2 separate regions of the Homo sapiens genome follow, and region 2 is linked to region 1. The links come from fine-mapping of genetic effects on gene expression. A gene starts in region 1. The other region holds a variant in brackets. All regions are shown on one strand. Distances are between the middles of the regions.

Region 1 (16,359 bases):
GCTCTTAAGACCCGGGTTTCTGATTTTTCTCCAAGTCAGTAGTCCCCAAACTTCTCTCTACCGGGACCTCCTCTGGAATCACATTAATCCGGGCCCCTCTCCAAGTCAGGCTGCTTTGCCTTTCCCAGTTACTCAACCAGGCTGCTTCTCAACTCCTTGGGAGTGCAGCTCCCCAAATGATCCCTCCTGAGACATTCCTCCTTTCTGCAAGTCCTCAGAGGACGAGACTTTCCGTCTGCATTTGGAGGGAAGGAGAAGAGAGACAGACCTCCTTTCTTCCTGAACAAAGATGAAGCACCAAGCTCTGGGAAAAGCTAAGCCAAGAGGCCCAACCTGGCTGGAAGATCATACAGTTGCATTTTTCGTGTGTACTAGAAATACAGAGCACTCATTAAATTAACCGAGTGAAAACCACTCCTTAGGCAATGATTAAGCTGAGAGTCAGAGGGATGGGTGGGAGGCCAGCTGTCCCATCTGAGCTGCACTTGATCACTAGGGAATTTATCATTTCTAATGCCTTTCACAAAGTCCCCTGTGATGCCCCCATTGCAGCCCCCGGGGAACGGTGAGGCAACCTGCTTCTTATGGCAGAAATATGGGACTCAGGACAGAGCAGGGGTTGTCTGGAAACTGAGGGAGAAAAACCAATATGGGGCATTTATAGCGTGAGCTCAGGCTGGGCGTGGTGGCTCACATTTATGATCCCAGTGCTTTGGGAGTCCGAGGCTGAAGGACTGCTTGAGCCCAGGAGTTCAAGACCAGCTTGGGCGACATAGAGAGACCCTCTCTGTACAAAAAAATTAGCCGGGTATAGTGGTGTGTGCTGTAGTCCCAGCTACTTGAGAGGCTGAGGCCAGGATTGTGTAAAGCCCAGGAGTTTGAGGCTGCAGTGAACTATGATGGTGCCACTATACTGCAGCCTGGGCAATGGAGAAAAAGGCAAAAAAAAAAAAAATGTCTATGGGCCTCCAGAAACAGACATAACATTTTTCTGGAGGCAGGTCGTACTGATTCCAAGGAATTCCCTAAAAAGGAATTTCCCTAAAAACGTTAAGATGTATTAGTCTAGGATGACAGGATATAGCACTTAAAACTATCCACAACTAAGTATTTTTGGAGAGGCGGGGGGAGGAAATTACCAGATAGATACAATTATTATAAAATTATCACAAAAAAATTATCTCATCTGGGGACAGGATGTTGCTTTCTACGGCTGCATGCCATCACTTGATGGAAAATGAGAATGTCCCTGGACCAGCATGACTTTTTCCATGGAATAAAACAGGCAAGTAATCTGTAGTCAGGCCTTAAAACATAAATTTAAGAAATGTAGGCCAGGCGCGGTGGCTCATTCCTGTAATCCTAGCATTTTGGGAGGCCAAGGTTGGCAGATCGCTTGAGCCTAGGAGTTTGAGACCAGCCTGGGCAACATAGTGAGATCCTGTCTCTACAAAAAAATTAAAAGGTTAGCTGGGTGTAGTGGCACATGCCTGTAGTCCCAGTTACTCAGGAGGCTGAGGTGTGAGGATCGCCTGAGCTGGGAGGTTGAGTTTGCAGTGAGCCATGAGCCATGATTGTTAACACTGCACTCCAGCCTGGGTGACAGAGTGAGCACCGTCTCCAAAAAAAAAAAGAAAGAAAGAAATGTATAAAGACTAGCCCCCGCCCCCTATTCCCCTGCATTTTTTTTTTTTTTTGTCTTCTGAATTTCCTTCCCAGTTGCAAAGGATTTTTCCTGCTCTCTGAGGCCATGGGTCTGACAGGCTCTCACCCAGATTTTCAGACTCTTAACAAGGAAGTCGTTGCTCTTCTGTGTGTATGGGGTAAAGCCTGTTTCTGCAAGGCTTTGGTTGAAAAGACCTGTGGTGGATCCAAATAAAGTCCCGCTGACCCCAACCTGGGGGAGGGAGGAACACAAAACATAAACATGCAGCTTCCTCAAACTTCTCCACTCTCCTTTCCCCAGCTCCACACAGGTCTGTCTAGAACATGCTGCCAGTAGGACCACAGAAGCTGTGGTTGGGGTGACCTCAGGCCCCCTACCCTCACAGCCAGGCTCACCCAGGTGAGAACCACACCCAGGCAAGAACCATCAAGGTTTGTGTTCTTTAGAAGAAAAGGCGCCTTTGTCAATCCAAGGTATTATTAAGTTCCAAACCCAACCCTGCAACCAAGTCCAAAAGCTATGCCTCCTTATAAAATTGAACAGAACAGGAAAACAAAAACAAACAAACAAACAAAAGCAGACAAAACAAACACAGGATCTATGTGTGTAAGGGGGAGATTCTCATCCAACACTGCTCCTGGAGGAAGGGGTGAGAAGGCTGATTTGTGAGCCCAGCAGCCGCAGAGGGCTCATCTAGAGTCAGTACTGGCAGGGCCCCAGAGAGGGCTGCATATCAAAGCACTCCCAAATTCGGGCTGGAGCCAGCAGCTGCTTCCTCTGAGCACAATAGAGCAGGGTCTGGAATCGTGCTGTGGGCCACGTTGAAAAGAAGGGGGTAGAGAACGTGAGTGTGAGCGTGTGCAGAGGAATCCTCACCACCATCAAAAGATTGGGTCTTTGTTGTTCACACCCACTGTGGGTGTAGGGGAGAGACCATCAAAATCCTGGGCAAAGGAAGCAGATACCTGGCCTCAGCTCACCTCTCCCCAAGCCTGCCAGCTTCAGTGCACGTGTAGCCAGCTTCACCCCAGCGCAGGCTGTCTGGGCACTGGAGGTGGGAGCCATTTTATGCAACAGTCCCAGCAACTTGCTTCTGGGGGAAAAGGCAGACCATGGGGAGGGGCTTTTGCCACTGCCACCCAACTTGTCCATGCCCTGCCCAGATCCGGAATCCTGATCCTTAGGGTTTCTCTGACAGGCAATTTTATTTTCAGAAGCGGGGCCTTCCCGCAGCCAAATGAGCAGTAGCAACCCATGAAATGGAGTCAGGGTTTTGATGCACAGGACAAAGTTGGCACTGATACAGGAAGGGGCAGGGAGGCCAGTGTGTGGATTGGGAGGGTCCTCCTGGCCACATCTGCGGTTTAGACTTCCACACTTCTTAGAGAACTGCTCTCACCCTCCCCAGGGCCTCATTCTACTCTCCACTAGTGAATAACAATAGCTACTGTTGGAAGATATGTCTGGTGCAATCTACTATGCTAAGTGCACTACACATACTCCCCATTTAACTCTCACAGCACCATGTGGGGTGGTCACCAGCCCCATCTGGTGATGAGACATGGAACCCAGGACTGGTGCTTTGATCACTAGGCCAAGTACTAAGGTATACGGGCAATGAACACCCCTGAGAGAGACCCCACCCAGGGTGAGGAGAGGGAACTGAGAAGCAACAGCAAAGAAAAGCACCAGCTGGGCTCTTGCTCCAGAGGTAAAGGCCAAGAAAAGCTAAGTTCTGAGGACTCAAGCCTTGGTATCCATCTCCCATTTCCAATTCAGGGCTTGTATTTTGTTTATTATATTATTATTTATAGATTTAGGGGACACGAATGTAGTTTTGTTACACATGGTGAAGTCTGGGCTTTTAATGTGACCATCACCAACATAGTATACATCGTACCCAATATTGGTTCCTATTTTGGGTTGTGTAGGAGAGTTCTATTGTTGTATGTGGTATGTGTAGGGGTGTTGGGTTCATAGACTGAGCTTGAAAGGACCTTTTGAGACCATTTGTTCCAAGCTATTGTTTTACAGATGAGGAAACTGAGGCTTAGAGCACAGAAGTGACCAACCCAAGGTTTCAAAGTGAGTTGAGGACAGAGCTGGGCTCACATCCAGGTCTCTGAATTCCCAGTGTAGGTCTCTGTGTTTCGCACCAGCCTCCCCTAGGTCTAGGGGATATGGTTTCTTGGGAAAGAGACCTCCCAGCCCCACACTGCTGTTTCCATCAGTGAGCGAGGCATGAGAGACAGTAAGCAAAGGGGCTGAGGGAGGTGGGGAGGGGATTGGGCTCTGTCAGTATAGCCAAACCTTTCCCTCTTTTGCCCTAAGGAGTTCCTCCCCTTCTCTGACCAGAAAGAGGGCAGACATGCATGTGTCAGACTGGACTGGCCCTAACCCTGGTTCCCCATTTCAGCTGGAGAAATACTTGTGTGTCTACCACATGGACATCAGCAAGATGTTTTCCCTCTCAACTGTTTTTTGGGGGGTGGGCAGGCGGGCAGGGAGGTCTGAAGGAAATGTAGAAACAATCAAAATAGAGCTAGGAGGGCCGGTTCTGGAGGTGGTGGAAGAACAGACTGATTTGCTGGTTTGGCTGTGGCCATCAGGGAGTGACCCACAGGGATGAGATCAGGCCAGGGAAGAGGCACAGCCCCCCAATAACCATCCTACTCCACTGAGGTTGGCCTCTCTCTGGATGCCTGTTGGACACCCCCTCTCAGCAGCCTCTGTGCAAAGTGCTGCTGGGCACTGGCCTCACAATTCCTGCTTTTCAAGGCCCACATCAGGTTCCGAATGCCAAGTTTATAAATGTCTGGTCTCAAGAGAGAAACGGACGTGGTGACAACATAATCACCCAAGCAGTTCCCTTAGGTTACACCTTTCCTTAAGGGAGTCTTGGGAGCTTCTTCCCACCCTTCTCCCATTCCCACTCAGCAGCCAAAACCAGTTGGGTAAAGTAACCTAGTTCTGAGACCACCCTGCCGCATCACCTTGGATAAGTCACCTAACCTCTCTGGGAAATGGTTTCCTGATCATCAGTACAGTGGGGACAATGCTTCCTGCTCTTGGCTACATCATGGGACTAGAACAAGAAAGGCTCTAAAGACTAACACTCTGCACAAGTGGACCGACCACAGTCTTCCTTTTCATTACATCATCTCCTAGGGATGAGGGCTTCATCTCCACAGGGACCCAGATACAGGACAAATGAACAGTAATTCAGGAAAACATAGCTACTGCCCATCTTCCTGCCTCTGATGAAGATGGAAGAGGACAGAAGTAAAGTAGGGGCCCCAGGAATTGTAATACTGGCTCTGTCTCTGCGATCCTGGGTAAATCACCCCATCTCTCTTCCTCTGCTGCCTCACTATGAATAAGAGAGCTGGACTGCATGATCTTCAAAAGTCATTCCAAACATTTCCAGTGTGAGTGATTTCTGTTTCAGACTACATAGGTCATCAGCTGCACCTAGGCTGGGGCCAGGCATAGGGGGTTCTGAATACGAGTGGGGTGGCAGGCTGAGGACAGTACGGACAGATTGCAGGCCAGCAGGCCACAGACAGAGTAGATACCAGTGGCCCTGTGAGCCTCGCATCAGCTTCCTGCATATGCCATGGGGCAGATGGGGGTAGGGAGGCACACTGTGGCAGTCTGTGTTTCCCTGCAGTCCCAAACCTGGATGCAGTCTAGGCAGACAGCTGAGGACTAACCAACACACCAGCCGGGAGAGACTGTACCTGGGAGGGGAGAGGAAAACTCCCAAAGTTCAAGGGTGGGTGAGGCCAGCTGCCTTCCCGCATACTTTTCTGCTGCCAGGGATTGGTGAAAGAAAGAAGCTAAGCGTGGCAGCTGGGTGGTTGCTGGGGTGGGTGGCAACACAGGAGGAGGGGTGCCCACGGCCAGCAGGGTCTTTTTAAAGCAAGTCAAGGGTTGGGAAGGAGCACACCTATATGCCGTCCTCACTGGGGTGTGTGTTATGGTGACTGATGCACTGGGGGAAGTCAGTCTCTGCAAATTGGAAAAACTGTTCAACCACCCCTTCAGCTCTGGGGAGGAGTGAATCTTAGAAGATTTCCCTAAGGAGGCTTGTGGGGACCTCAGTGACCAGCTCCAGGGGGAATAAGTGCATTTGTTTCTTTTCTACTTTTTTTGAGACAGGGCTCACTAGGTCACCCAGGCTAAGTGCAGTGGTGCAATCATGACTCACCGCAGCCTTGACCTCCCAGGCTCATGCCATCCTCTCATCTCAGCCTCCTGAGTAGCTGCGATCACAGGTGCATGCCAACACGCCCAGCTAATTTTTTATTTTTTTGTGGAGATGGGGGTCTCACTATGTTACCCAGGCTGGTCTTGAACCTGGATGAAAGCGATCCTCCTGCCTCAGCCTCCCAAAGTGCTGGGATTACAGGCATGAGCCACTGTGCCTGGCCAAGTGCACTTTTTTGTTACAAGACTCTGGTGGCATGCACCTGTTTCTACATCCATCTATCTTGAGAGTGGCATAGAGACTCTCTTCCTGCCTGCAGAGCGGCAAGTATTGTCATGTGTGTGCAGGGAATGTGGCTATAGAAACAAGGACACAAGGGTTTCCTATTCCTTGCTTCTGTCGCCTCTCAGCCTTCCCATTTGTAGAGGCTGAGTGGCCTGCAGCAGGTGTCTCTGGAGCTCCTGGCCCCGCTGGCCTCTCCAGATGAACGTCCGCTCTGCGCCCTGCCTGGCCTTGGGTGGGCCGCCTGGGCTGGCGGGGAGGGGAGAGGGCAAGGCCAAGGCTCTCCTGGGCGGGCAGCTGGCTGGCACCTGATCTCTCCCGGAAATGCACACACAGGACTCATCCCACTAGAGGCGCAGATAGGTATCTGCCCCCTCCTCTCCCGAACTCTGAGTTCTCTCCAGTGAAGATACTTATCGTCCTTGAAAGAAATCAAGACAAGCTAGTCTTTCAGGGAGCTACCAGGGAGTTCGGCGCTCTCACGGTGGCTCAGAATCAAAGTCTGAGGGAACGGGGGCCTGCGAGGTTCCTCCTCAAGGGTGGAGGGGCCCCCGACTCTCAGGGACTGGGTCCCGGGGCCGGACCCGCGGCCGAGGCACCCCTGCCGCTCCTGCGTAAAAGTGAGAGCCGCTCTTGGCTGAGCTCTCGCCGTGCCCGCACCCTCCCTTCCTGGCGCCCCCTACTACCTGGGAGACCCCACCCGGTCACAAGCCATACTGCTCACCACAGTCCTCCTTGGCCTTGGCCCAAAGAGGGGTGCTCCGCTTCTCCCTGCCTTCCTCTCTGGCACTCGGAGGGACTTGAGCTGGGAGCAGACACACACCCCAGCTCAAATCCTAGGCGAGCTAAAGTGCTCAGGACCCTCCCGCACGCCTCATCTCAAGAGGGCCCGGCTCCCCACGCCGGCTGGGCGGTGATGAGCCCCCACCCGAATGCGCCCGTCGCGGCCGTCCCGCCCGGCTCTGGACCCGGCCTTGGAGCCAGCTGGCAGCCGCAGGGCGCTCTCTCTTCCCGCCCGGTGCCTGCCCGGTGCGGGCAGTGCCAGCTGCCGGCACTCGCGGCCGCGGCCAGTGTCCGGGGCCCGCGAACAGGTGGGCCCTGAGAGGAGCGCGCGGCAGTCGCGCTCACTCACCCAGAAGATGAAGTTAAATCCGAACAGCAGGTATTTGATGCACTTGGTGCCTCCTTTGACCGGCATGGTGAGGGCTAACTTAGCCTGGGCCGAACGGGTGCGGGACTGGGGGGCGCGCGCAGCTGGGACTGGCGGGACCTGGCGCTGGATACAGATGCAGGCGGCTGTAGGCTGGTCTCCGGCTGCACTTTTAAAAAGTGCCACTCCTTAGGGCGCGCGACCCGCTGCGGTGCGCATGTGCCGGGAAAAGCCGCCCCCACTCCCCCCGCCGGCCACGCCTCCCGCCCCACCGGCCCCGCCCGGGCCGCACCCCCCCCGCCCCCCGCCCCCGCCCAGGTCGGCGAGCCCCGGCCCCAGCTGCCCCGCGGAGCCCGACCCTCTCCCTGTTTCCCCGCCTAGTCGCCCTAACCCCCACCCGCCACCCACTCCTTCTTCAAGCCGTCTTGGGGTCTTTGCAGGCAGCCACTCCCTGCCACTTTTACCGCGGACTTACGTGGAGGCCTCGCCCTTCCGGTTCCCCCGCGTTTGGTCTGGGCGCCGGACCGGGCGTTCTGCTTTGGGAGACTCTTCCCCGGGTCGTCAGGGCTAAAGGCCCCTTGGCCAAGGCCTGCTGCCAGAGTGAGGGGCCCTTCTGCTTTGCGAGGATTTAAAGGGAAGCCGCCTGGCTTAATTTCGCCCTCGTCTGTCTCCTTGCAAACCTTCGCTCGCTGACCATACTTTTCATTGGGCACAGCATGTGGGGTAGGAGGAATTAGAAGCGCGCAGTCTGGGTGGGATGACAGATGGGAGGCTTTTGGAAGTAATTAGCAAATACCTATCACCGAATAATAACACAGCTGAGGGCTGGGCAGTCCCCAAGCGCTTCCTGCACTTGAGGTTTAGTTGCCCCAGAGGGAAAAAGGGTCTGTAGACGGCTTCTGTTTTCTCTCTACTCCTCCACCCCACCCTCCCTCCTGCGTCTTTGGACTTGCTCGCTGCTGCCTTGAACTGCTCCAGATGCCGAGCTCGGAGCGCTTCTCCTGAGCTCACAAACTTTCTGTAGCTCTCCAGATTCAAGGACCTAAGTCGAAATTCCTCGTCTTGCCCTCAAGGCCCTGTACAGAGCACTGATCTGACTTCTCCCGGACCCAGAGCCCACCCCACTCGCTGGCCGGCATGCGCCCTGGCTGGCTGGCCCCCCCCCAACGTCACTTGTAGGAATTCTGTGGGTCTTTAAACACTCCTTTCCTGATTCTCTGGAGTGGACGAGGAGAGTCACCTTCTTTTGAAGTCCCCGAATCCCTTTGTATTATTTTCAAAATGAAGTTTCCTTTACTGTCCTTTATGATTACAAAAGCAAGATACAGTCATTACAGAAACAACCGAAATACCAAGAAGTGAAAGGAACAGACCTCAAAATTCTGCTCACCAGAAACAGCCACTGTTAGCACATTGCTGTTATTTGCCTGTTTATTATCAGTAGACTTGTCTCATTGGTTCAAAAACATTTTTCAGTATCTATTAGGGTATTTCATTAGGGGTAGGAGCTGAAAAACATGGATTAGTCCTTGTTTCTGCTCAGGGACCAGTGTGGGAGGAGACAGGCAGCCAGACAATGGTTTGAGGGTGATAGGTGCAGTTACGGGGAGAGGCTTGGGGGCTAAGAGGCTAAGGAGAGGCCTCTGACCCAGACTGGGAGATGATGCTGCAGAACCACAGGGAAAGTTGCCGCCAAGGGAGAATCCTGGGCAAAGGCTGGGGCAGGGGCTGTCCGGGCTCTGGGCTGGAGCCTGGAGTCACGGGGTAGTTTGTGGGAAGGTGAGAAAGAGCCTTGTGCTCCTGGACTTTGCACTCTGAGCATTAGGGGCCACCGAAAGGTTCAAGCAGGGGAATGGTTGGATCTGCTGTGTTTTCAGAGGTTCTCTGCCTGTGTTTTAGGTAGTTGGGTGGGGGAAGGCCGGAGGGGCAGGTAGGAAGCCCCTTGAGGACCAGGACCATTGTTGGCATCTCCAGTCCTTGGCTCAGTGCTTTACGGGATTGCATGGAACATGGAGATGTTGTATTTGGGGAGACGCAATCAGGTAATATGAGGGGAGCAGTGGTAGATGAAAGTTGAGCTGAGGACCAGGTGCAAATCTGCTAGGAGGCTGTGGAGTAGTTCAGGTGAGAGAAGAATGAATGAAGGCGGGGCAATGGGATAAAGCCTAGAGAAGGCAGGGCAAAACCCCATGAGGTGTCAGGCCGGGAAGGGGAGGGAGAGATCAGAGGCAGAGCAGCAGAAGCTAGTAACAAGTAGGGGCACAGGGCACATCCCCACGTCAATCTGAGTCCGAGAGGCTCCCCAGAGCAGGGGACATTGCAGCAGCTGACTTGACTTGGGAAGGTGGAGTCAGTAGTCAATGCGGAGGAGGGAATTCCAAGAGGGAACTGGATATGCAAAGACACAGAAGCGGGCAGCTGGCTGCACTGGGGAAACAACCGATAGTGGTACATGGGGAGGAAGGAGGACAAGGAAGGAGAGGCAGGGCCTAAACTGAGCCTAATGCCAAGAGGACAAGCAGAGGAATTTTGGTGATGCTTGACTTTACACATCCTAACCAGTGTCCAGGATGATTCCAGCACAGGGGAGGAGTGTGAAGCACCCTGGAGGGTGGGAAGGAGGCCGGAAAACAGTCAGTGTTCCATTGTGCCCTTTTGGGCCTGCGTCCATCTATCTTGGGAGACAGGTCTTAGGAAAAGAAAGATTTTATTGCATCTCCCCCTTCTCCCAAGTTAACAAGTACTGGTGGGAGGAGTTCAGTAAATATTTAAGTTTATAATAGAAATTACTTATTAGGGTAAACGTGAGTGTTGACAGAGGAAATCCACAGGGAGGCCTTAGAACCTGCCTGCCACAGAAGCGCTGCAGAAACGCTGCCTGTTGCTCCTATTCCTATTATTGTTTACACTGAAGAAAGAATTGGGGTCAGCCTATATAGTTCAGTGCCACATTCGTATAATCAAGGCATCCTTTTTATGTGATGAGAGCATTGGGCCTGAAGTGAGGGGGTCTGAGTTCTACTCTTGGTTCTGACCCTTTGGTCTATGTTAGGCAGGCAGCCTCCTCTCTGGGCCTCAGTCTCCTCACCTGTACAAGAGTATTGTGAAAGGAAAATAAATCTTAGGACCCCAAAATCAATAAGCCAAAGGAAAAAATCAAGCTGGGAACTGCCACAGGCAAACCTGCCTCCCATTCCTAAATAAGATAGCTACAAAGATTTTTTAAAAAGCTATGCACTTCTCGGCCGGGCGCAGTGGCTCACGCCTGTAATCCCAGCACTTTGGGAGGCCAAGGTGGGCGGATCACGAGGTGAGGAGATCGAGACCATCCTGGCCAACATAGTGAAACCGCATCTCTACTAAAAATACAAAAATTAGCCAGGCATGGTGGCGCATACCTATAATCCCAGCTACTCGGGAGGCAGAGGCAGGAGAATCCCTTGAACCAGGGAGTTGGAGGTTGCAGTGAGCCGAGATCGCGCCACAGCACTCTAGCCTGGCGACAGAGTGAGACTCCGTCTCAAAAAGAAAAAACAAAAAAAGCTATGCACTTCTTGTTGGGCGCTGTGACTCACACCTGTGATCCAAGCACTTTAGGAGGCCGACGCGGGAGGATCATGAGGTCAGGAGATCAAGACCATCCTGGCTAACACGGTGAAACCTCGTCTCTACTAAAAATACAAAAAAATTAGCCGGGCGTGGCGGCGGGCGCCTGTAGTCCCAGCTACTCAGGAGGCTGAGGCAGGAGAATGGCGTGAACCCGGGAGGCAGAGCTTGCAGTGAGCCGAGATCGCGCCACTGCCCTCCAGCCTGGGGGACACAGCCAGACTCCGTCTCAAAAAAAAAAAAAAAAAAAAAAGCAGCTATGCACTTCTTTCACAATTTGCCCATGAGGAAATTTCTGGTGGACCCTATGATATTTGCCCTAAAACAGTTCTGTTGAATTTCACCATGACAATGTAAATTGATAGCATATCTTCACAGGTACAGAAAAAAGGACAGAACTCAAAGTCATCCCTCTGCTCACCTGAGACAAATGCATATCTGATTGCTTCCTCCAATGTAAAAATGAAGATTCGCTGTGCTAGACAAGGCATAAGTGACTTATTTCTCTACCCTCCTCTGCCATGTAAATTGTGCATTCAGTGAGAGGATGATCAGTGACTCAAAAGAATGCAACCGTTTGTTTCTTACCTACCCACACCTTAAAAAAACTTTCTTCCTCTTTCCCCACCAGCCGCCTTTTAAATATTGAAGCCCTCAAAATCATCTTTGCAGAAGGCACAGATCTGCCTCCTGGGCGCCCATCTGTAACCTTGGCAAAATAAACTTTCTAAATTGATTGAGACCTGTCTCAGATACTTTTTGGTTCACAGCATTTTGGATCAGGAGGTGTCTTTCATTCCTCCTGACATTCTGTGTCACAATAAACCCCTGGGCCAAAGTGCATTTGTTACAGACAGTTAGTGCTACAGGCAACCAGGAAGGTGAGCGATGGAAAAATTATGTTTTGCCTTAACCGGAAGAGGAAAATATGGGTAAGCCCCTGAGTCAGAAATCACATGGAAGCAGCCAGGCCTTCCAGGCTTTGTGGTGCTGGAGTGGGAAAGCTTTTCCTCCCTTCCCTCAAGGCGTCCTGTCTCTGGGAAAGAAACCCCAGCTCAGGCTCAGGGTCCACTTTGGCTCTTGTGCCCCCCCTGGTGGTAAGATTTGAACACGCAGAGGCCAGGTGACCTAATGAGCCGTCACACCCATGCCCCAGGTCCCTCCAGCTGTGGGCAATGGCTTTGTAAGGCAACAGGTAGGACCCTCGCTCTCACAGGCCACCAAGGCCCTTCCAGCCACCACACCAGTGGCCATCTTGATTCACCTCCTTCACTTCTAGAAGCTTCTCTCCTGTTCCTCTTTCTAAGCTCAAATACACCACCTTATGAAGCCTTCCTGGAGCACTCCAGTCTTTTTCTCCGTGGATTACCTTGAGTCTCGCATGTGTGATTCTCTGGTCATCATCATCTTCCTTTATGTGTCCACTTCTTGGTAGTGAGCTCCTCGAGGGTGCACTTGCATTTGATTAATTTCTGTGCTCTCCCTAGCTCCCGGTCCCTTCCTGGCCCAGAGCAGGCCCTCTGCAAACATCTGCAGAATGACGGCTGGGCGTGGGGCTTTCTCAGGCCCCTGCCCTTCTCTCTCAGACCTCTCCTGGAGCACTCATCCCCTTTTGTGCCTTCCACCATTTTCTCTGTTTAACTCATCTCTCTGTAAATGCAAGTCCTGATATCCAAGAGCCTGCAGATTTTTTTTTTTTGAGACCAAGTCTCGCTCTGTTGCCCAGGCTGGAGTGCAGTGGCTCAATCTCGGCTCACTACAACCTCCATCCCTGGGCTCAAGAGACTCTCTTGCCTCAGCCTCCCAAGCAGATTGAATTACAGGTGTGCGCTGCCATGCCCGGCTAATAATTTTTTTTTTTTTAGACGGAGTCTCGCTTTGTCACCCAGGCTGGAGTGCAGTGGCACGATCTTGGCTCACTGCAACCTCTGCCTCCCGGGTTCAAGTGATTCTTCTGCCTCAGCCTCCCAAGTAGCTGGGACTACAGGCGCACACCACCATGCCCAGCTAATTTTTGTATTTTTAGTAGAGACGGGGTTTCACCATATTGGCCAGGCTGGTCTTGAACTCCTGAATTCGTTATCTACCCACCTCAGCCTCCCAAAGTGCTGGGATTACAGGCGTAAGCCACCGTGTTTTTTATATTTTTTATATTTTTTATATTTTTAGTAGAGATGGGGTTTCCTCCTGTTGGTCAGGCTGGTCTTGAACTCCTGGCCCCAGGTGATCCGCCCACCTCAGCCTCCCAAAGTGCTGGGATTACAGGCGTGCGCCACCGTGCCTGGCCCGTTTCCACTTCTAACGGCCCTCCAAATAGGCCCACGTTCCAATCCCCAAAACTGTGAATGTGTTACTTTCCATGGCATAGCCTGGACCATCCCAGTGGGCCCAGTGGAATCCAAAGGGTTCTTATAAGAGACAGGTGGAAGTGTCAAAGCCAGGGAAGGAGATGTGACGACAGAAGCAGAGGTCGCAGTGATGCACAGCTGTGTGTTGGGGAACAAGGACAGCCTCTAGAAGCTGGAGAAGGCGAAGAAACGAATTCTCCCCTGCAGCTGCCAGAGGGATCCAACACAGCCCTGCCCACCCATTTTAGATTTCAGACCTCTAGAATTGTGAAATAGTAAATATGTGTTACTTTAAGCCACTAAATTTGTGGTTGTTACCGAAGCAATAGGAAATATAGTAATCTCAATGTAAACATCAAGATCAGAATTCATAATCTCCAAGGGCTTTCTAGGCTCGCAGCTGACTTTCTCCTCAGCCCTCCCTGTCTCTAATCAGTCAGCACCAACACCTCCCATCACCTGGGGCTCCTCCTTCCCCCAGCCTCACAGCTGCTTAGTGAATGTGATTCCTGTTTCTTAGCTGTTCTTACGTCATTGCTGGGAGGCACCAGGGCTAAGGCGGGTTGTAGTGATTGAGTGGCAGAGCACAGATCAGACCTCAGAGCTTCTGGTTTCAGTCCAGGGTTGGATCCTGATCTTTTGTTCCCCCTGATGCCCTGCCATCCGCAAGGGGGCTGCATCCTGGAAGCTCATCTGCAGCCCAAACGGCTGTTCTACCCTTGCCCTGCCTCGCTGCTGTTCACCTGCCCAGGATGGACACAACATTGGACCCAGAGAGTCTTGCTGCGTGCGTCCTTGGGGGTGGGCTGCCCTCCTCTCACCCATCACTTCTTTTCCTTGCATTAAGCACACACACACTCAACCTGGAAACTGCCTATGTCCAGTGTGGATTTTATGAAGGTTTCACGGATAGGTGGATGAGGGGTTCCCTCTCATATGCCAGAGAGAACCATTCTAAGAATCCCTCTGGATAGCTCTTCTCAAACGTCCAATCTGTGGCAGCCACCCCTATCATCTGCCCCCCAGCCCAGCCTCAGCCAGCCCCCTGCCCTGTGGATGTCCTCTGCATATGTCTGTGTGGAGCAATTTAGCTCTAAACTTGGCATTTTCCGTTTGTGTCCCCACCTCCCCTCACCCTGCTCAGCAAAACAAATCATGGCTCTCAGGGTCTGTCCTCCTTAGTATATGGGGGTTGGGGGCAGGCGGGGAGCAATTCTAAACAAGCAATATTTAATATCATCCTTTCATCAGACTCCTGAAGCTCAGCTTTACTCTTTCCTGCTCAAAGATCTCCCAACTCCCCTTACCCCTGTTCTACTTCCAAACAATGCTCCCATAGCATTTACCTTCTCACAGAGTGGAATGTTTCCTTGGTATGTGCATTGCTATTTACCTGTCTCCTCCAGCTAGAATGCAAAATCCGCATGGCTGTTCTGTTCTCTATGTATCCCAAGGGCTTTGAACAGTGCCTGACATACAGTAGGTGCACAATATTTATTGAATGTATGGAAAGCCGATGTCTCAATTGTAAGATCATCATACAGGCCCTCTGCTCTCTCGCCTTAACCTCTGTTTGCAAATCTGTTCACTCTTTTGGAATACCACATGCATCCCCAGCTCTATGCCTGGGTCCCCACCTCTTCTTTCCGAAGCCCAAGCTCTTGGCACTTCCTCCTTTCTGCCCTTCAAGCAGCCTGCACCATCTCTGAGGCCAGCCCAGCCCCTGCCTTCCCCAGCACCCTCAGTCATCTTAGTCTGCTCTGATCCTCTTTCTCAGGACACTCCTGTAGCAACTTCTTTCTGAATCATCCACTAGACTCTTACAAGATTTGTCCTGGGTGATAATTTCAGGTTTCATGCATCTGTTTAAAAGAGTTGGCTGGGCGGCCGGGCGCGGTGGCTCACGCCTATCATCTCAGCACTGTGGGAGGCTGAGGCGGGCGGATCACGAGGTCAGGAGATCGAGATCATCCTGGCTAACACAGTGAAACCCTGTCTCTACTAAAAATACAAAAAATTAGCCAGGCGTGGTGGCGGGCGCCTGTAGTCCCAGCTACTAGGGAGGCTGAGGCAGGAGAATGGCGTGAACCCGGGAGGCAGAGCTTGCAGTGAGCTGAGATCACACCGCTGCACTCCAGCCTGGGCGACAGAGCGAGACTCCGTCTCAGAAAAAAAAAAAAAAAAAAGATTAGCTGAGCGTGGTGGCAGGTGCCTGTAATCCCAGCTACTCAGGAGGCTGAGGCAGGAGAATCGCCTGAACCCAGGAAGCGGAGGTTGCAGTGAGCTGAGACTGCGCCACTGCACTCCAGCCTGGTGAGAGTGAGACTCCGTCTAAAAAAAAAAAGATTAGCTGGGCATGATGGCGGGTGTGGGGAAAAGAGAGATCAGATTGTTACTGTGTCTATGTAGAAAGAAGTAGACATAGGAGACTCCATTTTGTTCTGTACTAAGAAAAATTCTTCTGCCTTGAGATGCTGTTAATCTCAATGTCAAACTCAGGGTTAAATGGATTAAGGGCGGTGCAAGATGTGCTTTGTTAAACAGATGCTTGAAGGCAGCATGCTCCTTAAGAGTCATCACCACTCCCTAATCTCAAGTACCCAGGGACACAAACACTGCGGAAGGCCACAGGGACCTCTGCCTAGGAAAGCCAGGTGTTGTCCAAGGTTTCTCCCCATGTGACAGTCTGAAATATGGCCTCGTGGGAAGGGAAAGACCTGACTGTCCCCCAGCCCGACACCCGTAAAGGGTCTGTGCTGAGGAGGATTAGTAAAAGAGGAAGGAACACCTTTCTGCAGTTGAGACAAGAGGAAGGTGGGCAATGGAATGTCTCGGTGTAAAACCCGATTGTATATTCCATCTACTGAGATAGGGGAAAACCGCCTTAGGGCTGGAGGTGGGACATGCGGGCAGCAATACTGCTCTGTAAGGCATTGAGATGTTTATGTGTATGCATATCTAAAGCACAGCACTTAATTCTTTACCTTGTTCATGATGCAGAGACCTTTGTTCACGTGTTTATCTGCTGACCTTCTCTCCACTATTATCCTATGACCCTGACACATCCCCCTCTCCGAGAAACACCCAAGAATGATCA
Region 2 (16,359 bases), 64 kb after region 1:
GTGAAAGTTACCACCATTTTTCTAGAAATTTCTGAATAACCCATACTGCGTCTGGAATTGGTGGGTTCTTGGTCTCACTGACTTCAAGAATGAAGCCACAGACCCTCGTAGTTAACAGCTCTTAAAGTGGCACATCTGGAGTCTGTGTCTTCTGACTTTCAGATGTGTTCAGAGTTTCTTCCTTCTGGTGGGTTCATGATCTCCCTGGCTCAGGATTGAAGCTGCAGACCTTTGCGGTGGGCGTTACCACTCTTAAGGCAGTGCATCTGGAGTTGTTCGTTCCTCCCGGTGGGCTCGTGGTTTTGCTGGCCTCAGGAGTGAAGCTGCAGATCTTCACGGTGAGAGTTACAGATCTTAAAAGCAGTGTGCACCCAGAGTGAGCAATAGCAAGATTTATTGCAAAGAGCAAAAGAACGAAGCCTTCACACTGTGGAAGGGGACCGGAGCGGGTTGCCAATGCTGGCTCCGGCAGCCTGCTTTTATTCTCTTATCTGGCCCCACCCACATGCTGCTGATTGGTAGAGCCGAGTGGCCTGTTTTAACAGGGCGCTGATTGGTGCGTTTACAATCCTTGAGCTAGATACAAAGGTTCTCCACGTCCCCATCAGATTAGTTAGATACAGAGTTTCCACACAGAGGTTGTCCAAGGCCCCAGCAGAGCAGCTAGATACAGAGTGTCGATTGGTGCACTCACAAATCTTGAGCTAGACACAGGGTGCTGATTGGTGTGTTTACAATCCCTGAGCTAGATATAAAAACTCTCCACGTCCCCACCAGACTCAGGAGCCCAGCTGGCTTCACCTAGTGGATCCCGCACCTGGGGCTGCAGGTGGAGCTGCCTGCCAGTCCCGCGCTGTGCGCTCTCATTCCTCAGCTCTTGGGTGGTCGATGGGACTGGGCGCCGTGGAGCAGGGGGTGGTGCTCGTCGGGGAGGCTTGGGCCACACGGGAGCCCATGGAGTGGGTGGGAGGCTCAGGCATGGCAGGCTGCAGGTCCCGAGCCCTGCCCCGCGGGAAGGCAGCTAAGGCCCGGCGAGAAATCGAGCGCAGCGCCGGTGGGCCAGCACTGCTGGGGGACCCAGTACACCCTCCACAGCTGCTGGCCCGGGTGCTAAGTCCCTCATTGCCCGGGGCCAGCAGGGCTGGCCGGCTGCTCTGAGTGTGGGGCCCGCCAAGCCCACGCCCACCCGGAACTCCAGCTGACTCGCAAGCGCGGCACGCAGCCCTGCTTCCTGCTCGCGCCTCTCCCTCCACACCTCCCTGCAAGCTGAGGGAGCGGGCTCCAGCCTTGGCCAGCCCAGAAAGTGGCTCCCACAGTGCAGTGGGGGGCTGAAGGGCTCCTCAAATGCCGCCAAAGTGGGAGCCCAGGCAGGGGAGGTGCTGAGAGCAAGCAAGGGCTCTGAGGACTGCCAGCACGCTGTCACCTCTCAATACCTTAACTTGCAAGTAATTGAAAGTGGGTATATGTATGACTGTTGACCTGCCCCTGAGCTGGTGCTCTCAACACATTGCCTAGGGGTTAGCCCTGCTCTGCAGGAGTAGTCATAAAGTTGTCACACTGCTGCCTCCATAAAGCTGTTTTCTTCTACCACCAGCTGGCTCTTGAATTCTTTCCTGAGCAAAGCCAAGAATCTTCCAGGGCTAAGTCCCAATTTGGGAGCTTACTTGCCCTGCATCAGTGCAATCATAGCTCACTGCAGCCTGGAACTTCGGGGCTCAAGCAATCCTCCTGCCTGAGCCTCCTGAATAGCTAAGATGACAGATGTGTGCCACTACACCTGGCTAATTTTTTCTTTTTTTTGTAGACATGAGGTCTCACTTTGTTGCCTAGGCTGATCATTGTTTTTAAAATTTCTATCTTTACTGATTTTTATCTGCCTGACCTATGGATAATTGAGAAAGCCTTTTTGAAGTCAATTGTCAATTTATGTATTTTGAAGCTATTTTGTAAGATGCATATAAATTTGAGTTGCTGTAACTTTCTGCCTCTCAAATTAGAACCCCAGGTCTTGAGATAGTGATTCTGGGGTCAGGAATCCTGCTGTGCTACTACTGGGGCCAGGAATGCCACCAGATGTAATGGTCTGAGTTCTCTGTAGCTCGATAGCAGCAATAATGTGGTGTCATTGTTCCTGAGAACCAGGGAAGATGAGTCTGAAGCTGCACCATTCTTCTGACATTGTAGCGTGGGTGGGTCCTCTCTATTTTGATGATTGTGAAGGAAGTGAGCATGTTATTCTTGCACAAGATGTTTGTCTTTAGAAGAGAGGAAGTAGAGGAGGACAGCTTCCTCTCCGCTGGGGGCTACAGCTTTATGCTGGGAGCTGGTCGTCTGGCCTAAGAAATACTGCTGTGTTTATTTATTTGGCGCATACTGCCAAGAAAATTCTCTTTCCTGCAGAATTTACGTAAGAGAGATGCTACAAATATACAAAGAAAAGACAAAGATGGGTCCTCCTAGAAAACCTTTCCTCCCCTGAGGTTCTTTTGCTTTTGTACTAGTTACCTGGAGAACTTACTCCTCAGACAGGCAGAGGTCAATTTACCCATCCCCCTGCCTCTGAGCAGCCCTGCCCCATGCGCCCCCAGAGGTCACGCACCCTTCCCATTTGTACTTAATGCTGTTTACATCAGCCCAAGTTCTAATGGCTCTCATACTGTGGTCCTCAGGGATCCTTCTTCCTTGAGCCTCACAGCACTAATTGTCCTCTAACTTATTTGGCAAAGCTGCCTTGGGACACCCTCCATGAGGGCAAGGGAGCAGGTTGTGTGGCATGATATCTTGGCCTATATTAGTTTTCTATTGCTGCAGTGACAAATGACCACAAGCTTAGTGGCCTGAAACAACACAAATTTATCTTACAATTCGTAATTGTAAGAAGCTCGAATTGGATCAAAATCAAGGTGTGTTGGAAGAGCTGGATTCCTTCTGTAGGTTCTATGGGAGAACCTGTTCTTCGCCTCTATCCACTTCCAGGGGCACACATTCCTTGCCTCGTGGCCCCGCGTTGCATGACCTCTGCTCGCATCATCACATCTCCTTCCCTGATGCTGACCCTCCTGCTCCTCTTATAAAAACTCTTGTGATTATATCGGCCCAGCAGGATACTCTGGGGTAAGCCAGGATCATCTCCCCATCTCAAGACCCTTAACTTGCTCACATCTGCAAAATCCCTTTTGCCATGTAAGGTAGCATTCAGAGGTTTGAGATGGGATGTAGACATCTTTGGCTGTTCTTCTGCTACCGTAATGTGTTACGTGGTTGGCTGTATCTGCTCTTCTCTTGTCAAACCCATGGTCTCCTCCAGGCCCTCGTCTTCCCTGTCCGGGAAGGTTCCACCAACCACTAATGGATCTCCCTTTCTCCATCTGACCTCTCACAATACATGCCACTGCTGCCAGAGGGCCTCATCTGGTGTCACAGGATGAACATAAACCCCTACACTGGTTGAAGGTCCCTGAGGACTTGCCTCTTATTCCTCTCTTTGGTCTCTTTTCCTGTGAGTCTCCTTTATAGGCTGTAACAACTGGCTTATTCACCTACTTACTGATTTAGCATCTCAGAGCTTGCCTGCTTCTAAGCTTTTACTTCCTTCCTTGCAGCTGATGTGCCTTTGCCCTCATTTTCACCTGGCAAAATCCTACTCAGCAAATGGGTAATTAAACCATTGCAACCATTATAAACCATTGCAATTTTTCAGGGGGGCCATTTGGCCTTATTGTCAAAGGCCTCACTGAAAATGTGGACGGTGGCTGACCCAGTGCTCCACATGTAGGATTTCATCCTGTGGGAGTAATCCTGAGGGTTGTGCATGGATATAGCTTCAAAGATGTTCACTGCAGCATTGTTAATTAAAAAAAAAAAAAAGTAGGCCGGGAGTGGTGGCTCACGCCTGTAATCCCAGCACTTTGGGAGGCAGAGGCGGGCGGATCACGAGGTCAGGAGATTGAGGCCATCCTGGTTAACGCGGTGAAACCCTGTCTCTACTAAAAATACAAAAAATTAGCCGGGTGTAGTGGCGGGTGCCTGTAGTCCCAGCTACTCGGGAGGCTGAGGCAGGAGAATGGCATGAACCCAGGAGGTGGAGCTTGCAGTGAGCCGAGATTGCGCCACTGCACTCCAGCCTGGGTGACAGAGCGAGACTGCATCTCAAAAAAAAAAAAAAAAAAAAAAAAGTAGCACTAACCTAAATAAATATCCCATAATATGGAACTGGTTACATAAATTGTGGAATATCAGTAAGTGAACTATTCCAGCCAAGTGTGTTATACTCTGATAAAACAGACACTTGAGTGTTATTTAGAAATAGTGCCAGAGTGTCATATGAGTTACAGGCGCAGAATACCACATGGGAACGTGACCCCAGTCTGATGTCCCTGCCCCCTTGCAGAGCCATCCTGTGACTTTCACCGTGCAATTTCCCCAACCACAGTGACGAGTGCTATCTTCTGTGCTGATGATTTGGAGAGCAGGCAACAACTTCCTTGGGTATTAAGCAATTTTTTTTATCTGCAGTTTCAGTTCTGTAGCTACATTTTAATATTATATGCTAATTAACCCACATCATTGTTCTACTAGCAGGGAGTTCAACAGACATTTATGGAGCACTTACCATGTGCTATGCTCCAGACAGAGCACTTTGGAAGATACAGAGATGAGTAAGGCAAGGTCTTGTTCTAAGGAGAGCTCAGACTGGAGGAGATAAGACAAACAAAAATGCATGAAAAGGCTGGGAGCGGTGGCTCATGCCCATAATCCTAACACTTTGGGAGGACGAGGCGGGCAGATCACGAGGTCAGGAGATCAAGACCATCCTGGTAACACGGTGAAACCTCGTCTCTACTAAAAATATAAAAACAAAAAATTAGCTGAGTGTGGCGGTGGGCGTCTGTAGTCCCAGCTACTCGGGAGGCTGAGGTGGGAGAATGGCGTGAACCAGGGAGGCAGAGGTTGCAGTGAACCAAGATCGCGCCATTGCACTCCAGCCTGGGCAACAGAGCGAGACTCCGTCTCAAAAAAAAGAAAAATGCATGAAAAGATGAGAGGGCCACAGAAGCACCCAGAGGTGGTTCAAAGGCAGGAAAAGCGGGGGTGAAGGGTGGGAGGAAAGGAGAAAAGGCTTATGGAAGAGTTATAGGTATAGTGGAGAAAACACGGACTTTGTAATCAGGTAGATTCAGATGCTGGCTGCCTTTGGTAGCAGTGTGATCCTAGGCAAGGCCCTTACCCTGTCTGAGCCTCAGCATCCTCAACTATAAAATGAGAGTAACGCTCTCTTTCCCTCAAACGGTTGTTAGAAGGTACAGTGGATTGAATGGTGACCCCCAAAAGACATGTCCACATTCTAACTCCTGGACCCTGTGAATGTGACCTTACTTGGAAAAAGGCTTTTTGCAGATGTAATTAAGGATGTCAAGATAGATCACCCTAGATTACTAGATCCTTAGGCGGGGTGTGGTGGCTCACGCCTGTAATCCCAGCACTTTGGGAGGCCGAAGTGGGCAGATCACTTGAGGCCAGGAGTTTGAGACCAGACTGGCTAACATGGCAAAACCCTGTCTACTAAAAATACCAAAAAAAAAAAAAAAAAAAAAAAAGGCTGGGTGTGGTGGTGGTGCCTGTAATCCCAGCTACTCGGGAGGCTGAGGCAGGAGAATCACTTGAACCTCGGAGGTGAAGGCTGCAGTGAGTCAAGATTGTGCCACTGCAATCCAGCCTGGGTGATAGAGTGAGACTCCACCTTGACAAAAACAAAGAGGCTGGGTGCGGTGGCTCTCGCCTGTAATCCCAGCACTTTGGGAGGCTGAGGCGGGTGGATCACCTGAGGTCAGGAGTTCAAGACCAGTCTGGGCAACATGGTGAAACCCTGTCTCTACTAAAAATACAAAAATCCGCTGGGTGTGTTGGCACGTACCTGTAATCCTGGTTACCTGGAAGGCTGAGGCAAGAGAATCACTTGAGCCAGGTAGGCAGAGGTTGCAGTGAGCTGAGATTGCACCATTGCACTCCAGCCTGGGTGACAGTGAGACTCCGACTCAAACAAACAAAAAAACCAAAAAAAGATTACTAGGTCCTTCCAGATTACTTAGATTCAATGTCAGGTGTTCTTATAAGAAATATACAGTGGGAGACACACAGGGAGATGAGGAGAGAGCCATGTGAAGACAGAGGCTGAGATTAGAGTGATGCTGCCACAAGCCAAGGAAAGTCTGAAGCCACCAGAAGCTGGAAGAGGTGAGGAAGGTCTCTCCCTTACAGCCTTTGTGGACACCTTGATTTCAGACTTCTTCCTTTCAAAACTGTGGGAGAAGACATTTGTGCTGTTCTAAGCCACTCGGTTTGTGGTGATTTGTTACGGCAGCACTGGGACACTCACAGAGGAGGATGAAGTAACACAGTGTTCACAAGCAGCTAGCAGAGTATCTGGTACTTGCAAGGTGTTCACCAAATGACAAATTCTCCCTCTGCAGGAGGGGGACATGGAAGGATGAACAGGAGAGAGGAGGAGTGGGGAGGAGGCAGGACATTTGGATGGTGGAACAGTGTGAGCTGAACACAAGAGGTGTCTGGGAAGCAATGCCTCCGGGGACCAATCAGACATTCTGGGGTGCAGGGTGTGGGGTCAGGGTGGACGTGGGCGTGTGCTCAGCAAGGGTGCAGGAGGAAGGCACGTGTGCTGACTGTTGGATGGGAGGTTGGAGAAGAAGGGCCCACCGAAAGGGAAAGAGGCAGGCTGCTGGGGCTCCTCCTCGCCCTGGGGCCTTCCACCTGGGCTGCTCCTGCCTGGCCTCTAGTGCCTTGGTGCTCCTGGTGGAGCTGAAGCAGTGCTTGAGGCCATGCCAGAGGAAAGTCGCTGGGCTGCTGGTCATTAAAGGAGTCATAATGGGCTTGGGAAGAAGGAAGCAGCAAGTGGGATGGAGTGAAGATTTCAGATCCTTGAGTTTGTTTACTGAGCACCTGGTAACCCCCTGGATTCTTCTGTCAACCTGGCTATGAACATGTAATCAAGGATGGCAAGATAGATCATCCTAGATTACTAGATCCTTAGGTCAGGCATGGTGGCTCACACCTGTAATCCCAGCACTTTGGGAGGCCGAGGTGGGCGGATCACCTGAGATCAGGAGTTTGAGACCAGCTTGACCAACATAGTAAAACCCAGTCTTTATTAAAAAGTACAAAAGTTAGCTGGGTGTGGTGGCACATGCCTGTAATCTCAGCCACCTGGGAGGCTGAGGCAGGAGAATGGCGTGAACCTGGGAGGCGGAGCTTGCAGTGAGCCGAGATCTCGCCACCGCACTCCAGACTGGGTGACAGAGCAAGACTCCATATCAAAAAAAAAAAAAAAAAAAAGAAAAAGAAAAAGAACATGAGATGATTCCTCAAACTCCTGTACATCAAAAAACAAACAACAAAAAAAACCCTCATCAATATATATTAAAGTGAAGAACTGAAAAAAAAAATCCTCATATCAATGTGAGAAAACACTAACATTTTTAATCTTTAAAGAGCTTTTATAGATCAATATAGATAAGCATCTCAGTTAAAAATGAGCTAAAGACATGAACAAGAAATTCACAAAAGAAGAAATACACATCGACAATGTTAGAAAATGTTCTCCCAATAATGAAAGGAATGAGTATTAAAGTAACAATCTTTTTTTTTTTTTAAGACGGAGTCTTGCTCTGTCGCCCAGGCTGGAGTGCAGTGGCGTGATCTCAGCTCTCTGCAAGCTCCGCCTCCCGGGTTCACGCCATTCTCCTGCCTCAGCCTCCCGAGTAGCTGGGACTACAGGCGCCCGCCACCGTGCCCCGCTAATTTTTTTTGTATTTTTAGTAGAGACGGGGTTTCACCGTGGTCTCCATCTTCTGACCTCGTGATCCACCCACCTCAGCCTCCCAAAGTGCTGGGATTACAGGCGTGAACCATGGCGCCTGGCCTAAAGTAATAATCTTATAATAGTTTTTGCCACTTACATTACCAAATCTGTAATAAAAAATAATAATGCTATAGAAGGGTAAATTGGTAAAGTTCTTGGGAGGATATATAAAAGGCTTAATTTTTGTGCCCTTTGACCGAGCAATTTCTTTTACTTCTAGGAATTTGTTTCAAGGAAATGGGCTGTGTGTGTGAGGATTTATGTACAGGATGTTGGTCACCCTGCTATTTGTAAGGCAAAGCCAATATTTCCACGTCACTTGGCTTCAGAGCTTTATCTTTTAAGTGAAACTTTCAACCACAGAGAAAACTAAAGAGGATAATGCAGAAACACCCATGTTCTAGCCAGCTTGCTGCATGTTAACATTTTGCCATATTTGCTTTATACTTTTGAAATAATTAACAAAATATTTACAGAGAGGTATGGCCCCCTAGGTCCCACTCTCTGGATTCCATCTTCTCTTTTCTTCCCTAGAGGTAACTAGTATCCCGAATTTACAGGTTATCACTCCACCTGCATGTTTTACTGTAAGTAAACGTATTTATTTATTCATTTATTTTTTGAGACAGAGTCTCAATCTGTTGCCCAGACTGTTGTGCAATGGCATGATTACGGCTCACTGCAGCCTCGAACTCCCGGGCTCAAGTGATCCTCTTACCTTAGCCTCCCGAGTAGCTGGGACTAGAGATGCACACCATC[A/CA]TACCCGGCTAGTTGTTTTTTTTTTTCCCCATAAAAATGAGGTTGCTGTATGTTACCCAGGCTGATCTTGAACTCCTGGCCTCAAGCAATCCTCCTGCCTTGGCTTCCCAAAGTGCTGGGATTACAGGTGTAAGCCACCATGATTAGCCAATTAAACATATTTGTAAGCAATAATATATAGTTTTATTTTACATGGTTTTTACCTTTATGTAAATGGTACGTATCCTCTGATCCTTGCTTTTGTTTTTTGTTCACCATTATTTTGGGGGGTTTTCCATGTTAATACATGTAGCCTAGATTATTTTTAATTGCTATTTGTTATTTCACTGGATGAACATACAATTTATTAATTCTTCTATTGAAGTATATTTAGCCTGGTTGTTTACACATCTCTGACTGCAGACTCTGCTGCAGTAAACATTCTGTGCATGCTGGTTGGTGCACATGCGTGAAAGTTTCTCTAGGGGATACGCCTATGCATGCAGTCACAAGACTGTGGGGAAGAGCATCTTTACATTTTATAGATATATTTCCACACTTTCTCCAAAGTGCTTTACCTGTTGTCCTCAGCAACATATAGGAATTTCAGGAGCCCCTCCTTGCCATTCTGAGAAGTGGGTAACTAATTGTGGTTTTATTTTAGATTTCCCTCATGACCAGCAAAGTTGAACAGGTTTTGGGTTTTTTTTTTTTTTTTAAAGATGGTGATTTGCTCTTGCTCTTGTGCCCAGGCTGGAGTGCAATGCTGTGATGTTGGCTCGCTGTGACCTCTGCCTCGCGAGTTCAAGTGATTCTCCTGCCTCAGCCTCCCGAGTAGCTGAGTCTGTGTCTGGAATTCGTGGGTTCTCGGTCTGGCTGACTTCGAGAATAAAGACGCAGACCCTCGCGGTGTTTGTTACAGTTCTTAATGGCGGCGTGTCCCGAGTTTGTCCCTTCTGATGTTCCAATGTGTTGGGAGTTTTTCCTTTTTGGTGGGTTCGCAGTCTTGCTGACTCAGCAATAAAGCTGCAGACCTTCGCTGTTGAGTGTTGCAGCTCTTAAGACAGCGCATCCAGAGTTCTTCGTTTCTCCTGGTGGGTTCATGTTTTCCGTAGCTTCAGGACTAAAGCTGTATATCTTTGCAGTGAGCGTCACAGCTTATAAAGGCAGTGTGATCCCAAAGAATAACCAGCACTAAAATTTATTACAAAGAACAAAGCACCTAAAAGGTGGAAAAGAATCCAAACGGGTTACCAGGGCTGGAGCTGGCAGCCTGCTTTTATTCTCTTATCTGGCCCCACCTACATCCTGCTGATTGGTCCATTTTACAGAGAGCCGATTGGTCTGTTTTACAGAGAGCTGATTGGTCAGTTTTGACAGGGTGCTGATTGGTGCGTTTACAATCCCTGAGGTAGACACAAAAGTTCTCCATGTCCCCACTAGATTAGCTAGATACAGAGTGTGGATTGGTGTATTTACAAACCCTGAGCTAGATACAGAGTGCTGATTGGTGCTTTTACAAACCTTGAGCTAGATACAGAGTGCTGATTGGTGCATTCATAATCCCTTAGCTAGACATAAAGATTCTCTAAGGCCCCACCAGATTAACTAGATACCGAGTGCCGATTGGTGCATTCACAAACCCTGAGCTAGACACAGGGTGCTTATTGGTGTGTTTACAAACTTTGAGCTAGATACAAAGTGCTGATTGGTGTATTTACAATCCCTTAGCTAGCCATAAAGGTACTCCAAGTCCCCACCAGATCAGCTAGACACAGAGTGCTGATTGGTGCATTCACAAACCTTGAGCTAGACAGAGTGCTGATTGGTGTATTCTCAATCCCTTAGCTAGACAAAAAGGTTTTTCAAGTCCCCACCACACTCAGGAGCCCAGCTGGCTTCACCCAGTGGGTCCCGCACTGGGGCCGCAGGTGGAGCTGCCTGCCAGTCCCGCGCAGTGCGCCGGCACTACTCAGCTCTAGGGCGGTCGATGGGACCTGGCGCCCTGGAGCAGGGGGCGGCGCTCCAGGGAGGCAGCTAAGGCCTGGCGAGAAATCGAGCACAGCACCTGCTGGCCCAGGTGCTAAGCCCCTCACTGCCCGCGGCTGGCCGGCCGCTCCGAGTGGGGGGCCCGCTGAGCCCACGCCCATCCGGAACTCGCGCTGGCCCGCAAGCGCCGCTGCGCAGCCCCGGTTCCCGCCCGCGCCTCTCCCTCCACACCTCCCTGCAAGCTGAGGGAGCCGGCTCCAGCCTTGGCCAGCCCAGAAAGGGGCTTCCACAGCGCAGCAGCGGGCTGAAGGGGGGCTCCTCAAGTGCGGCCAGAGTGGGCGCCAAGGCCAAGGAGGCGCCCAGAGCCAGCGAGGGCTGGGAGGGCTGCCAGCAGGCTGTCACCTCTCAGGACTACAGGTGCGCCACCACGCCTCGTTAATTTTTGTATTTTTACTAGGTGTTTCACCGTGTTGTTCAGGCTGGTCTCGAACTCCTGACCTCCGGTGATCCTGCCGCTTAAGCCTCCCAAAGTGCTGGGATTACCAGGCGTGAGCCATCACGCCCGACCTGGTTTTGGTATGTTTACTGGCCAACTGCGTTTCCTCCTTTTCTGTAGATTGTCTTTCCATATCACTCTCTATTGCCACTGGGTTGTTTGTCCATTTCTTTTTCTATTTTTTTTTTTGATACGGAGTCTTGCTCTGTCGCCCAGGCTGGAGTGCAGTGGCACAATCTGGGCTGACTGCAATCTCCGCCTCCCGGGTTCACACCCTTCTCCTGCCTCAGCCTCCTGAGTAGCTGGGACTACAGGCGCCCACCACCACACCCGGATAATTTTTTATATTTTTAGTAGAGACAGGGTTTCACCGTGTTAGGATGGTCTCAATCTCCTGACCTTGTGATCCGCCCGCCTTGGCCTCCCAAAGTGCTGGGATTACAGGCGTGAGCCACCGTACCTGGCCATTTTTTTTTTAGACGGAGTTTCGGTCTTGTTGCCCAGCCTGGAGTGCAATGGTGGGATCTCGCCTCACCCCAATCTCTGCCTCCCTGTTCAAGCCATTCTCCTGTCTCAGCCTCCTGAGTAGCTGGGATTACAGGCATGCACCACCACGTCCGGCTAATTTTGTATTGTTAGTAGAGACAGGCTTTCTCCATGTTGATCAGGCTGGTCTTGAACTCCTGACCTCAGGTGATCTGCCCTCCTTGGCCTCCCAAAGTGCTGGGATTACAGGCGTGAGCCACCGCGCCCGGCCACATTTGAAATTGTTTTTAACTATTCTTTTTTTTTTTGTTTTTGAGACAAGAGTCTCGCTCTGTCGCCCAGGCTGGAGTGCAGTGGCGCAATCTTGGCTCACTGCAAGCTCCGCCTCCCGGGTTCACGCCATTCTCCTGCCTTAGTCTCCCGAGTAGCTGGAACTACAGGCGTTTTTAACTATTCTTGATATTTTGCTTCCCATATGGAGTTTAGGATCAGCTTGTCTAATTATATGAAAAACCCTGTTGGATTGAAATTGTATTTAATTTATTGATTAATCTGAGGATATTTGGCATCTTTACAATATTGTGACTTAGTAAATATGAACACAGCATGTCTCTTCATTGGGTTTTCTTTTATGTCTTGGGACAAGATTTATGATTTTCTCTGTAATATTGGACAGTTTTTTTTTTGTTTTTGTTTTTTTGTTTTTTTTTTTTTGAGACAGAGTCTTGCTTTGTTGTCCAGGCATGATCTAGGCTCACTGCAACCTCTGCCTCTCTGGTTCAAACGATTCTCCTGCCTCAGTCTCCCCAATAGATGGGATTACAGGCATGCGCCACCACACCTGGCTAATTTTTTGTATTTTTAGTAGAGACGGGGTTTCACCATGTTGGCAAGGCTGGTCACAAACTCCCGACCTCAAGTGATCCGCCCACCTCGGCCTCCCAAAATGCTGGGATTATATGTGTGAGCCACCACGCCCGGCCTATTCTATTTATTCTTAAGTATCTGCAGTAATTGCTACTTTACTAATAGGGCCACTTCAAAGATTGTATTTTATAACTATATGGGAACATAATAGATTTTAAAAAGGAATCTTGCGGCAAACTTCTAAACTCTTAGGTAGATTCTTTTGAATTTTTCTATGTACACATTCATATCTTCAAATAATAACTATTTTGCTTTTTCCTAAGCTCCATACCTCATATTTTCTCTTCTTCTCTTACTTTGCTGGCCTGGGCATCTGATCCAATATTGACTAGCAGTGATGACATTGAACATGCTTGTCGGCCGGGTGCGGTGGCCAACGCCTGTAATCCCAGCACTTTGGAAGGCTGAGGCGGGTGGATCACGAGGTCAGGAGATCGAGACCATCCTGGCTAACACGGTGAAACCCCGTCTCTACTAAAAATACAAAAAAATTAGCCGGGCGTAGTGGCAGGCACCTGTAGTCCCAGCTACTCAGGAGGCTGAGGCAGGAGAATGGCATGAACCTGGGAGACGGAAATTGCAGTGAGCCGAGATCGCACCACTGCACTCCAGCCTGGCTACAGAGCGAGACTCAGTCTCAAAAAAAAAAAAAAAAAAAAAAAAAAAAGAACATGCTTGCATGTTCAAGTAATTATCCTGCGTCACCCTCCCTAGAAGCTGGGACTACAGGCGCGCGCCAGCGGCATGCCCAGCTAATTTTTGTATTTTTAGTAGAGACGGGGTTTCACCATGTTGGCCAGGATGGTCTAAATCTCTTGACCTCGTGATCCACAGGCCTCGGCCTCCCAAAACGCTGGGATTACAGGCGTGAGCCACCGCGCCCGGCCTTGTTCTGGTTTTTAAAGGGAAAGTGGCTTCCATTTTACCATAAGTATGAAATATGCTCTGTGTCTCAGGCCAAGGACCTTCCCTTCTTTTTATAGGTTACTTAAGTGTTTTGTTTACTTGTTTTCCATAACTGGGTGTTGTTGACTTTTACAAAACTGAAAGCTTTTCTGCTTTATAATTTAATCGTTTTTAAAAATAAATTTTAAGCTTATATTATGAAGTGCACATAAATCTATAGATTCCATCTTCCTGGTGCATTGATCTTTGTATCACCTTTTTCTACTCTTTGGTGCTAATGATGACTTTGATCTTAAGGTCCACTGTGTGTGATAGTGGTATAAAACGCTTTTCCTTGGCCATCACTTGCCTCTCCTTTCTTTTCCTTACGGTCTTTGTGTGTTTATATTTTAGGACTGTCTCTTGAACATTGCTGGATTGTGTGCCTTTTTAAAGAAATCCAATTTGATAATCTCTACCTTTTTATTATTGATTATTGATCTGTTTGAATTTTTTGTACTGTTGCATTTACATTTTATACTATTTGTCTTGCTTTTTCCATTTTTCTCCTAGATCAATCTAGTTTTTAAAAATTTCTTGTTTTTTTTCGATAGGTTTGGAAAACATACATTCAATTCTATTCTTTCAGTAGCCTCCCTTAAAATCTTACTATGCAGTATAGCCTTAACTAAGTCTAAAGTGATCATGACCTGTTTCTTCCTTCTGAGCCATGCAAGGACCTTAATACACTTTCACTCCTGTCTTACATGTCATTGCTATCTGGTATTTTGGTTCTAATTTTTAATAACTCTCCAACTTATCATTACCATTGTTATTGTTTTATATAATGACTGCCTGCTCATATTTACCCCCAGATTTACTATTTTATTTATTTACCTTTTCTTGGCATCCTGTTTCTAGGCTGAATTTTCTTCTTCCTGGCAGGGCGAGGTGGCTCACACCTGTAATCCCAGCACTTTGAGAGGCCGAAGCAGGAAGACTGCTTGAGCCCAGGAGCTCTAGGAGTTTGAGACCAGCCTAGGTAACATGGCAAAACCCTGTCTCTACAAAAAAATACAAAAATTAGCCAGGTATGGTGGTACATGCCCATAGTCCCAGCTACTAGGGAGGCTGAGGTGGGAGGATCGCTTGAGCCCAGAAGGTTTAGGCTGCAGTGAGTTGTGACTGTGTCACTGCGCTCCACCCTGGGTGACAGAGACCCTGTCTCAGAAACAATAACAAAAAATGTTTTTTCTCCCTGAAATTCCTTCTTTAGTAGTTTCTTCAGAAAGGACTGTTAATGTTAAGCCCACTCTGTTTTTCCAAAAAAAAAAAAAAAAAAAAAGTCTATGTTTCCTCAACTCTGAACAATAATTTACAGGTAGACCAGATGTTACAGTCCCTCTGCCACGGCCCTCTAACCCCATCTCTCCGTTTCTTCTAGACTACCAGTGTCTGCTCCTCCGTGCCTGAGGGCCAGAAGTGTTGAGGGCTGAATGCCTCCTGAAGCAGCCTTGACAATAACTGACAGGAAGGAGTAAGTGTAGAAACTCTCCTGCTCCCTGACCCAAGAGTGGGAAGATTCAGAGGCATGGATCTTACATTTTCCCAGACTTCCCTCCAGAAGGAAGCTTTCTTGTCCACTTGGTGGCTGGCATAATAAACATCTTTTATTGACTGCTTTCCCTGCCCCGTATCACATTCCCACTTCCCTGCCGATGCTTCCTGTCCTCCCAAATCAATTATCTACACTAAAATACTCAGGGTCTGCTTCTGGGACTTCAAACTAAGACACTGCATATAGAATTCTCCACAAATGGACTTCTTCTCTCAGCACTTCTCTTTGGATCTTCTAATTCTATCATGTTTCTTAATTCTGCCTCCATTTTTTTTTTTTTTTTTTTTTTTTTTTGAGATGGAGTCTCACTCTGTCACCCAGGCCAAAGTGCAGTGGTGTGATCTTGGCTCACTGCAACCTCTGCCTCCTGGGTTCAAGCAATCCTCCTGCCCCAGCCTCTTGAATAGCTGGAATTACAGGCATGCACCACCATGCAAGGCTAATAGTTGTATTTTTAGTAGAGATGGGATTTCAACACGTTGGCCAGGCTGGTCTCGAACTCCTGACCACAAGTGATCTGCCTTACTTGGGCTCCCAAAGTGCTGGGATTACAGGCATAAGCCACTGTGCCTGGCTGCTCTTCCATTTTTTCATCTCTATATTTGAGTGATTTCTTTAGAACCATTTTTCAGCTTTTTTTTTCCCAAAAATATCTGGTGTTTTTGAATTTTTCAATTAATTTACTATATACATTTCTTAAAGTTCTTTTTTTTTTTTTTTGGGACAGTATCTCACTCTATTGGCTAGGCTGGAGTGCGCGATTATGGCTCACTGCAACCTCAACCTCCTGGGCTCAAGGGGTCCTCCCTCCTACCTCAGCCTCCTGAGTAGCTGTGACCACAGGCATGCACCGCCAGGCCCAGCTAATTTTTTATTTTTATTTTTTGTAGAGATGGGGTCTTGCTGTGTTGTGTAGGCTAGTCTCAAATTACTGAGCACAGACAATCCTCTTGCCTCTGCCTCCCAAAGTGTTAGGATTACAGGTGTGAGCCTCCACGTCTGGCCTTAAAGTTCTTTTTCAAGTTTTCCTCCTGTTCTTTCTTTTTTTTTTTTTTTTAACGGACTCTCACTCGGTCACCAGGCTGGAGTGCTGTGGCATGATCTTGGCTCACTGCAGCCTCCGCTTCCCGGGTTCAAGCGATTCTCCTGCCTCAGCCTCCAGAGTAGCTGGGACTACAGGTGCGTGCCACCATGCCCAGCTGATTTTTGTATTTTTAGTAGAGATGGGGTTTCACCATATTGGCCAGGATGGTCTTGATCTGTTGACCTTGTGATCCACCCACCGTGAGCCACCGTGCCCTGCCTTGAAAAAAGTTTATTCTTTGTAAAGACAGGGTCTTGCTG

What was found.
Region 2: its variant is fine-mapped to the expression of CD9 in monocytes after LPS (Quach 2016, PIP 0.93). The same link has a PIP of 0.9 or more in monocytes after Pam3CSK4.

The regions. Positions count from the first base shown.
Region 1 is chr12:6,191,497-6,207,855 of GRCh38, reverse strand. It overlaps CD9 (CD9 molecule), which reads right to left and starts at 7,456. Exons shown (of 8, transcript NM_001769.4): 1 at 7,291-7,456. The coding sequence starts at 7,356. RefSeq lists enhancers at 4,909-5,520, 5,521-6,133, 7,360-7,971, 7,972-8,584, 16,088-16,359 and a silencer at 13,711-13,760.
Region 2 is chr12:6,127,084-6,143,442 of GRCh38, reverse strand. No RefSeq gene overlaps it. Among named protein-coding and RNA genes, the nearest start is that of VWF, 11 kb to the right of the region's middle. RefSeq lists an enhancer at 539-1,096. The variant A/CA (reference allele first, on the strand shown) is at 8,636.